2 separate regions of the Homo sapiens genome follow, and region 2 is linked to region 1. A link means that fine-mapping ties the variant in region 1 to the expression of a gene that starts in the linked region. Tissue or cell type: whole blood. Region 1 holds a variant in brackets; the other region holds the start of a gene. All regions are shown on one strand. Distances are between the middles of the regions.

What was found. PIP is the estimated chance that this variant, and not a neighbour inherited with it, causes the effect.
Region 2: SHLD1 starts here. The variant in region 1 is fine-mapped to the expression of SHLD1 in whole blood (INTERVAL, PIP above 0.99).

Annotation. Positions count from the first base shown.
Region 1 is chr20:5,825,224-5,830,223 of GRCh38, forward strand. All of the region lies in intron 2 of SHLD1 (shieldin complex subunit 1), which reads left to right. Among named protein-coding and RNA genes, the nearest start is that of SHLD1, 77 kb to the left of the region's middle. RefSeq lists an enhancer at 1,630-2,131. The variant A/G (reference allele first, on the strand shown) is at 2,903.
Region 2 is chr20:5,747,285-5,752,598 of GRCh38, forward strand. It overlaps SHLD1 (shieldin complex subunit 1), which reads left to right and starts at 3,117. Exons shown (of 3, transcript NM_152504.4): 1 at 3,117-3,195. RefSeq lists an enhancer at 2,943-2,992.

The DNA.
Region 1 (5,000 bases):
TCCTGTCTTTACATATGTGGGACCCAGCATGAGGCTATTCAGAAACAACAGAATCAGGTCGAGGCCAGTCAATACAGTCGGTAGCTGTTATTGAATGCCCACTGGGTGGCTGCAGGCTCCTGGCTGACCACGTTTCTAAGAGCTGGTTAATGGAGTCCTCGTTACAGTCTTGGTTAAGCTAGCACATTTAACAGCCCGCAGTGCAAATGAAAAATACATAGGTCTGACTAGGGAGCATTTTCCCTTTCTGTCTTTTTCCGTAAAGAGAGGAAAGTGATTGCTCTGGAAGTTTCTGACATTAATAGCCATGTTGGCATGTGGCTGTAAGACAACCTGAGTTAAGATGGTGATATGCCACTTAAAATAACAAGGCCGGCACAGTGGCTCATGCCTGTAATCCCAGTGCTTTGGGAGGCCAAGGTGGGAGGCTGGGCTTAAGCCCAGGAGATCAAGGCTGTAGTGAGCTATGATTGTGCCATTGCGCTCCTGCCTGGGTGACAGAGCAGAACCCTGTCTCTAAAAGAAAAAAGTAATAGGGTGTGCTGTGCTATTGTTACATTTATAAACCACTCCTTATTTTCCAGAGCATGGTTGTTTTTATGATCTTATCTGCTGCAAGAGACCTTAAATGATATTGATCAATATTTTCCTGACAGTGTAAGTTTTCATTCTCAGAACTGAGTATTATGCAACTGACGACATGGGGAGTGGGGCTTGAATTTTCTGGACCACTCAGGGTTGGGATGTGAGTGCCACTGGAGAGCCCCTTGGCCCACAGGAAGGAAGGGCTGCACATGGGTATAGGGCCACACGGAGGTACTGTATGAGTGGTGGGAGGCCAGCTGGCATCAAGCACTGTTCTCTACCATCAGTGGGTGTGAATACGACTGCAGGTTATTTTTCTGTGCTGTTCAGGTTTTGCTTTTATTTCTCTTTTGTTGGTCTGATCAAGCTGTTTATTGTTTGCAGATGGTAACAAAATATAATTAAGTTGTTTGTTGTTGAAGCTCCTGTAGGAAAAAATTATCTAGTTTTATCAACTCTGTAACCACAGCCCTCCTTTTCCCATATTGAAATAGCTATTTATATGATTTTTTTATAATGTGAAGTTCTTAGGAACATAGTTATTATAGCAGAGCTAATTGTAATATGTTTGAATGCAAGGATCCAAATCATTGAGGATTACTGCCATTCTGATACCTGTACAAAATTATGCACTGTCAAAAAAAAAAAAAAGAAAAAGATTATGCATTGTCATTGAGGCAGTTTGTATAGGATAGCAAGATCTTCTCCAAGTGGCTTTCCTTTGACAGTCCTCACAGATGGCTTTCCTGTGAGTTGCCATCACAGTCCCTTGCCTCCCCCAACATCTCCAGCTCTGAAGTCCTCCTCCTTGACCTCAATCGGAGTAGTCAGTTCAGTGCAGTAGTTGAGAATATGACTCTGGTACCGGACTCTCCTGGGTTTGAATCTGAACTTCACCACTTACTAGTTTGGGATGTTGACCAAGTCACTTGGCCTCTCTGTGCCTCAGTTTCCTCATCTGTTAAATACGATGCCTCATACAGAATCTGCATGGGTTAAATGAATTCTGTGAAAGCCTGGGGAAGAGGGCCTGGCACGCATAGGTTTCACGTAAGTGCTGTGGTCTGTGGCTAGTCTGTCATCGCCCCTCCCTCATATCCCCCCCTTCACCACATCACCACCTACCATCCCCCAGTCCCCTCTTTCTCCCAGACCCTCCCTCTCTGCATTTGCCCCTAATGCCGTCAGTAGCCCCCACTCCCACCCCATTTCCTTGCTGCTTGACTGTATCAGCTCAAGTCCTGGTGGAGAAGAGATGAAACAGTCCAACCAGGTAAAGTGAGGAGAGCTTAATGAAGAGCTTATGTACAAAGGCATGAGTGGGCGTGGCACCCACAGGGAAAGCACAGAGCCTGGGGCCCGCCACCATGAGAGCGTGTGCTCGCAGCAGCTGTGTGGAGGGGCTGTCTTGATGCGAGCTGTGGGCCTGCTGGAGGGATGCCGCCAGCCCAGGAAGGGATCCAAGGATGTAAATAGTCCAACCTTGCCTCCTCCCTCCTTCCACCTCCTGCCAGGCCTCCTCTTGGCTCCCAACCCGAAGCTGGAGGGCAAGGGCAGCCATCAGCCATAGTCCACGTAGTCCGCCTCCCAAGGGCAGAGCAGGGTGGAGACGGGGAGAGCAGATATAGACCAGAGGTCAAGTGGAAGAGCTCTGCACAGTGCCCTATGGCACCCCCAGTCTGCAGCCCCCACCCAGCCTGGAGTCATGGGCCCCCGCAGTCTGGCCCACCTGCCTTCACCCACAGGCCCCCCATCTCTGTCCCCATACCCTCCTCCCCTGCCATTCTGCCAGTCTGCAGCCTGCTCACCAAATACACAATGACCTTTGCACTTCTTTTCAACTTTTCACACCTCTTCCCTTTCCCAGGAGTGCCTTTCCCTCCTAGGCCTGGAGAAATGCTATATAGTCTTAGGATCCAGCCTGAATCCCCTTGCTCTCTGCAGATTTCCCTTGCCTCCAGTTAGCTTCCCTTACGGCTGATTCGACACGTACTTCATTACAGTGCGTACTTCACTAGGGTGCACTTCATGCTGTGGTCTTGCCAGTTATTTGTGGACCACTTCCTCTATAGACCAGATCATTCACTCTTGTGGGTAGAAACTACACCATGGTCATCTCTGCATTCCTTTGTGGTACCTCCAAGTAGTTGAAATAAAAACAAGTGCTCAAAAAATTAGTTGCATTGAAATGACTGATGCAAAGATACGATGAATATCATTTACTTGGTTAAAGGTGGTGTTAGTTATAAAGAGTAGAGTCAGCATATTCAACACTGATTAACTATATTGCATGTTGTATGTAACCAAGTCACTCCCT[A/G]ACTTGCCTCCCCCCAACATACATCTAGATTTAGTCACTGTCATCTCCTCTGGGGACACCCTTTGTGTCACTTATTAGAATTTATCTGTATAATTATTTATCCTGGGTTCTACCTCCTCTTCTAGATCTTTAACTCCGTAAGGGCAGGGGCCATATCTGTGCTAGTCATCACAGAGTCTCTAGACCTTAGAACAGTGTGATAGGTCTTTCATAGCTGTTTGTTGAATGAATAAATATGTTGGTCATAATACATTATAACATATCGTAACCTTAAAGGCCTGCAGAATGGGGACTCTAGGTGCCATGGAAGGGCCTATGAAGTTCCTTTCCATGCCCCTCAAACCATTTCCTGCTGCTGGAAGGAGTCATTTCTTGATGACTCCATTCCCACATCATTAGAGCAGCCACCCTTTCCACTTGCATGGAAGTAGGTCTTGTACCAAGAAGAACAAATTTCCTTTTCCTTCTGTCACCATAAGGAATATAGTAATATTGGGGGAATTATTCTTTTTCTGCAATTCTTTTGCTTCGCATTTCACTGTCCTTATTGTGCTGATTTGCAGTTTCTTAAATTGATGGTGCCAAGTAAAATATATTTGATTGTAGTTTGTACCATTTCAAATCGATTTAGTAATTTTGAAGATGTGTAATAGGCATTATCAGGTCTTAAAATTGAAAATTGGCATGATTTTATGTCATTTTATATCATTTCACTAATGTGATAGTCTAGCCAGATTCTATTATTATTGTCATTATTATTATTTTGAGATAGGATCTCTCTTTGTTACCCAGGCTGGAGTACAGTGGTGCAATGTTGGCTCACTGCAGCCTCAACATCCCCAGGCTCAGGTGATTCTCCCACCTCAGCCTCCTGAGTAGCCGAGACTACAGGCATGCACCACCATGCCTGGCTCATTTTTTGAATTATTTTTGTAGAGACAGAGTCTCACTATGTTGCCCAGGCTGGTCTCAACTCCTGGGCTCAATCTATCTGCCCGCCTTGGCCTCCCAAAGTGCTGGGATTACAGGTGTGAGCCATCATGCCCAGCCAGATTTTATTATTAATTAATGAGTTCAGGGAGTTCTTTTTAAAGGTCACAAATGATGTTTAATAACATGAAAAAAGATTATCTTTTGGAAACAGAAAGTAGCAACATAGCCTACAAGCCTTAATTTATTTAAGCCCTACTATTACTCACTAATCTTTTTATTTGAGGTTTAACATTCTGACCAATATGTTCTGGAAAGGAAATTAAACTCAACATTTGAGATAACAGAGCTCTTATGAAGCTTATATACTGGAGATATTGGAAAAAGATACTAATCTCCCTCTCCCCTCAAAAAGCAAGAAAGCAATTAGTCTGGAGGGACTGTCTAAATAGGATTGTCTAAAGGAAAACCTGCAAAAAAATTGGGCAGATGGTCTTTATAAACTTAGAGAAGATTAACTCCGCAGCCATGTTGTAACAGGTTTTTACGGATGCATTTGTTGCAAATTAATTGCCTCTTTTCGGCCTTAATAACCTAAATTTAAGTTTGGGGGTTTGCATAGAAGCAATTCAAAGCTCAATACTGTCATGTTTTTCATTAATTTACCAGTGAGTGGTTGGGTTTGTATGAATAATTTGATTTATTTTGAAGTTAAATGTAATTATAAGTTGTGTTTTGCTAGGCAGCTTGTCCTTTATAATAGAATTTGCCTTGAACTACAATATAATTTATTCTACCCTTCTTGGTTAACAGCCTCTTCTTTAGGAAAAAAAAACACAGGCAATATCTGTGAAGATAATATTTTTAAGGTAGATGCAATAGAATGGTTTGGGAGTCTTTCAGTCTTGGGTGATAGAAGATCAGATTTGGTACAGATCTGGTATAGAACCCCATCATTAGGACTAAAAGCAGGCAAAAGCAGAACTGGGCCCTCAGTTCTCAGATAAGCTGTTATACCTATTTGCAGTTTCTTCAAAAGTGAGCATACATAGACAGTTCTACTCCCAGGTAAGTACCTAAGAGAAATGCATCCGTATGTTCATGGAGAGACATGCACTGAAATAGTCACAGCAACACTCATAACGGCCCTAACTAGAAACTCTATACA
Region 2 (5,314 bases), 78 kb before region 1:
CACTGATAACAAGCCATGAAGAAGTCATGTTTCTGAGATTTCTTAGAGGGTATAAAGTTGAGTGGGTTGTGAATGAGGAGTGGGGAACAGGTGAGACCTGGGAAAAGACTTATTTATTCGTGCATATAACAATGATTTCACTTATATGTGAGTCACTGAGCTGGGCTCTGAAATACAAGCAGAGAAAAAGATAAACGTGGTCTTTGCCTTTGAGATACTTACAGTTTGGTGGGAAAAGCAGAAAGGACAAAGGAGTTTAGAGCAATCTGGGTAAACAGAGGAAAGTGAGCTATTCTTGCAAGGGACCACTAACTCTTTTCAGATAAGTCAGAGAAGGTTCCTGGAGGAAAAATTGGTTAAAGCTGAGATTGTAAGGAAGATAAACATCAAAGAAGAGAGAAGAGTGTTCGTAAGGGAAGAAATTGCATGGGGGAAGAGCTCAGAATTGAGAGAAGGCAAGCATGGAGTATTTAAGGAAAAGAAAGTCCGGGCATGGTGGCTCACACCTGTAATCCCAGCACTTTGGGAGGCCAAGGTGGCGGATCATCTGAGGTCTGGAGTTCGAGACCAGCCTGACCAACATGGTGAAAACCCATCTCTACTAAAAATAAAAAAATTAGCTGGGCATGGTGGCACATGCCTGTAATCCCAGCTGCTCAGGAGGCTGAGGCAGGAGAATTGCTTGAACCCGGGAGGCAGAGGTTGCAGTGAGCCAAGATCGCGCCACTGCACTCCAGCCTGGGCGACACAGTGAGACTCCATCTCCAAAAAATAAATAAATAAATAAATAAATAAAAGGAAAAGAAAATAGTGTATAGGTAAAATATTTATCTTAAGTCCAGGACTCCTAATTTATGGGTTATTATTCCAATTTAGGCATCGATAGGAGGCTATGAGTATACACTACTCTTTCAAGAAAATGGTGAAAGGGGAAAAGAGCCCTCAGTTTTGTTAAATTTTATAAGAGGCAATTGATTTGGTCTGACCTCCTCCACTAGGCCCCAGCAGGCCAGGCCAAATCAGAACTGAGTTACTTGTGCTAAGTGCCATGTAATCAAACTGAACTTTGAAACAAGCCCATCTTCCAGAAAACGGGAGATTCCAGTCAATCTGAGTAAATATAATAAGGAAGTCTTCTCTGTTTTAACCCTACAAGGAAAGTAACTTTGAAATGATCAATTTGCAGGGCCGGGTGCGGTGGCTCATGGCTGTAATCACAGCACTTTGGGAGGCCCAGGCGGGAAAATCACTTGAGATCAGGAGTTCAAGACTAGTCTGGCCAACATGGCAAAACCCTGTCTCTACTAGAAATACAAAAATTAGCCGGGCATGGTGGTGCACGCCTGTGATCCAGGTACTAGGGAGGCTGACACACAAGAATCACTTTAACTCAGGAGATGGAAGTTGAGATCGCACCAGGACACTCCAGCCTGGACGACAGAGTAAGACTGTCTCAAAAAAAAAAAGAAAAAAAAAAGGACGATCAATTTGCTTTTTGTTCAAATCTCTTTCTGCATTCTTTAGCCCCTTTTCTGCCTATGAAGCTAACCTTGTCTGCTCAGCTCATTGGAACATTCAATCTTATAGAATGAGATGCTGCCTGATTCTAGAATTGTAAACAAAAGCCAATTAGATCTTTAAGCTAAATCTTAATTTTGTAATTTTGTCTTTAGACAGTCTCTTTTTTGTGGTCCTGCAGTTGTGGCAGTTATGTAGTTATCTGCATGCATCAGAATATTACAATATTTTCATCCTCATCTTTAATTTCTACTTTTCATATTTTTAAAATGTAGACATTCAAGTTTATTTATTTATTTATTAAAACCATTTTGTAGGCCGGGCACGGTGGCTCACGCCTGTAATCCCAGCACTTTGGGAGGCCCAGGCAGGCGGATCACGAGGCCAGGAGATCGAGACCATCCTGGCTAACACGGTGAAACCCCGTCTCTACTAAAAATACAAAAAATTAGCCGGGCGTGGTAGCGGGCGCCTGTAGTCCCAGCTACTTGGGAGGCTGAGGCAGGAGAATGGCGTGAACCCGGGAGGCGGAGCTTGCAGTGAGCCGAGATGGCGCCACCGCACTCCAGCCTGGGCAACAGAGCGAGACTCCGTCTCAAAAAAAAAAAAACAAAACCATTTTGTAGAGACAAGGTCTCCACTGTGTTGCCCAGGTGGGTCTTGAACTCCTTGCCTCAAGTAATCCTCCCATCTTGGCCTCCCAAAGCAGTGGGATTACAGGGGCATGCCACCCCACCCTCTCCAAGACATTGAATTTTATTTATTTTTTTTTTTGAGACGGAGTTTCGCTCTCGTTGCCCAGGCTGGAGTGCAATGGCACGATCTTGGCTCACCACAACCTCCACCTTCTGGGTTCAAGCGATTCTCCTGCCTTAGTCTCCCGGGTAGCTGCGATTACAGGCTGCACCACCACACCCAGCTAATTTTGTATTTTTAGTAGAGACAGGGTTTCTCTGTTGGTAAGGCTGGTCTCGAACTCCCGACCTCAGGTGATCCTCCTGCCTCGGCCTACCAAAGTGCTGGGATTACAGGCGTGAGCCACTGAGCCCAGACGAATTTTTTTTTTTAAAAGGCAAGGTCTAGCTCTGTTGCCCAGGCTGGACTGCAGTGGCAAGAACATGGCCAACTGCAGCCTTGACCTCTCAGGCTCAAGCAATTCTCCCACCTCAGCCCCCCAACTACCTGGGCCTACAGACATGTGCCACCATGCCTCGCTAATTAAAAAAAAATTTTTTTTGTAGAGACAGTGTCTCCCTATGTTGCCCAGGCTGGTCTCAAACTCCTGGCCTCAAGTGATCCGTCTCAGCCTCCCAAAGTGCTGGGACTACAGGCGTAAGCCACCGCTCCCGGCCAACATTTAAATTTTTGAATATTTTTTCTGTTCCCTTAGGGTTTACCAAGCACATTTATCGACAAGCCTCCTCAGGAAATTGCCCAAAATAGCCACATGTGGCAAGCCTCATTGACAGGCCAAAAGCCTCAGTCAACATGGCCGCGACCGGCTTCCATTGCCCTTCACTGCCCGCAGTAAGGATGGCTCCGGTGACTTCCTTCGAACCTCACATTTCCCATAAAAAAGATGGCGCCATTGCTTCCGCGTTCCGGTTGCGGATGGTGAGTGTGTCGGGGGGCTTGGCGGCTTTTCTCCTCAGTTTTCTGGAGTGCTTTGGAGGAGAGGTAAGCGCGGGATGGGATGGGGGGGGGTTGGAGTGGTGGGGGCGGGGGTCACAGCAATGCATCTGATCGTTCTCTCTCAATTAGGAAGTTATGGAGGCTTTCCTAGGCATGTCAGGATTTCCTGCTAGCTCCCCGCCCCTTCCGCCCCAACACACGGTGTCTGCAGCCTGTGCTTTGGGGAATTTTGGGAATTTGTGGATAGTGAGTATGGATAAGCTTCGGTTTTGTTGTTTTTTTTTAAATTTTTTCAGTGACCTGCCACTTCAGGAGGTTCTGCTAAAAAACCAACAAACAAAAAAACAGCTTTCTTGGGAAATTTCTATTCACCTACTAAGTAAAATTTGCCCATTTAAAGCGTAAAAAAAAATCAAGCCTAGCATAGTGGCATTCGCCTGTAGTTCCAGCTGCTCAGGAGACTGAGGTGGGAGAATCGCTTGTGCCCCGGAGTTCCAGGCTGCAGTGAGCCCAGATCGCGCCACTGCACTCCAGCCTGGAAGACAGAGCAAGACAACGTACCCAAAAATAAATAATAAAGGGTAACATTAAGGGTTTTTTTGTTGTTGTTGACAGAATTGTGCATCTATTACTGTGATCTCATTTTAGAATACTTTCATCACTCCAAAGAAAAATCCTGCCTCCAGTAGCAGTCATTCTACATTCACCACGTCCACTCCGCCTCAAGTCCTAGACAATTGCTAGTATACTTTCTGTCTGTATAGCCTTGCCAATTCGCACGTTTGATATAAATGAAATCATACAGTGCAGCTGGCTTCTTTCATTAAGTATAATGTCAATGTTTTTGTGACTAGCTTCTTTCATGACTTTTGTTCTTTTTTTAAACGGAGTCTCATGACTCTCACTCTGTAGCCCAGGCTGGAGTATAGTGGCACGATCTTGGCTCACTGCAACCTCTGCTGCCCAGGTTCAAGCTAGTCTCCTGCCTGAGCCTCCCGAGTAGCTGGGACTACAGGCGCCTGCCACCACGTTCGACTAATTTTTGTATTTTTAGTAGAGACGAGGTTTCACCATCTTGGCCAGGCTGGTCTTGAACTCCTCAGCTCTTGATCAACCTGCCTCAGCCTCTCAAAGTGCTGAGATTACAGGTGTGAGCCACCACGCCCGGCTATCTTCTTATACTATGTATAATATTTTCAAAGCTTGTCTTTGTATCATGTGTCAGACTGTTAGCAAATAAATAAAACTCTGTAAACTATTTTAAAGCGGTTTATTCTGAGCCAGTATGATTGACCATCGCCCAGAGAGAAAACACAAACCCAAAAAGTCTTTAGTAAGTGATCCCGAGGCAGTTGGGTTATAGTTTGTTTTTTTTACATTTTAGGGAGACAGGAGTTAACAGGCAAAGACATAAATCAATACATGGAAGGTATACATTGGTTAGACCCAAAAAGGTGGATATGTCCAAGGGTGGTCTTAGAAGTCTTAGGTGGATTTTAGGGATTCTTTAGCTGACAGTTGCTTGAGAGAGTTAAGCTTTGTCTAAAGACTTGAAGTCAGTAGAAAAGAATGCTTGAACTAAGATAAGGGAGTTGTGTGGTTCAAGGTCCTTGTTACGTAGATGAAGTGTGAGTAGCAGCCTCAGAGAATAGATGGGCTAGGTGCCATGACTAGAGATGGGCTGGGCTCCATGGCTCACACCTGTAATCTCAACGCTTTGTGAGGCCGTGGCAGGCAGATCACTTGAGGTCAGGAGTTCAAGACCAGCCTGGCCAACATGATGAAACACCATCTCTACGAAAAATAAAAAAATTAGCCAGGCACGGTGGCGTGCGCCTGTAATCCCAGCTACTTGGAAGGCTGAGACACAAGAATTGCTTGAACCCAGGAGACAAAGGTTGCAGTGAGCTGAGATCGCACTACTGCACTCTAGCCTGGATGACAGAGTGAGACTCCATCTCAAAAAAAAAAAAAACAAAAAAGAGAGAATAGATGGTAAATGTCTCTTTTTGGAAATTTAGGTGTCAGAATTAATCTTTCCTGGATCTGGGAAAGGCCTAGAAAAGGAAATCCTGGCTGCATTAATGGAGATTCTCTACAGATGCAAATTTCTGTTACAAAAGACAGCTTTGTAGCTTTGTAGGGCCATTTTAAAATATGTCAA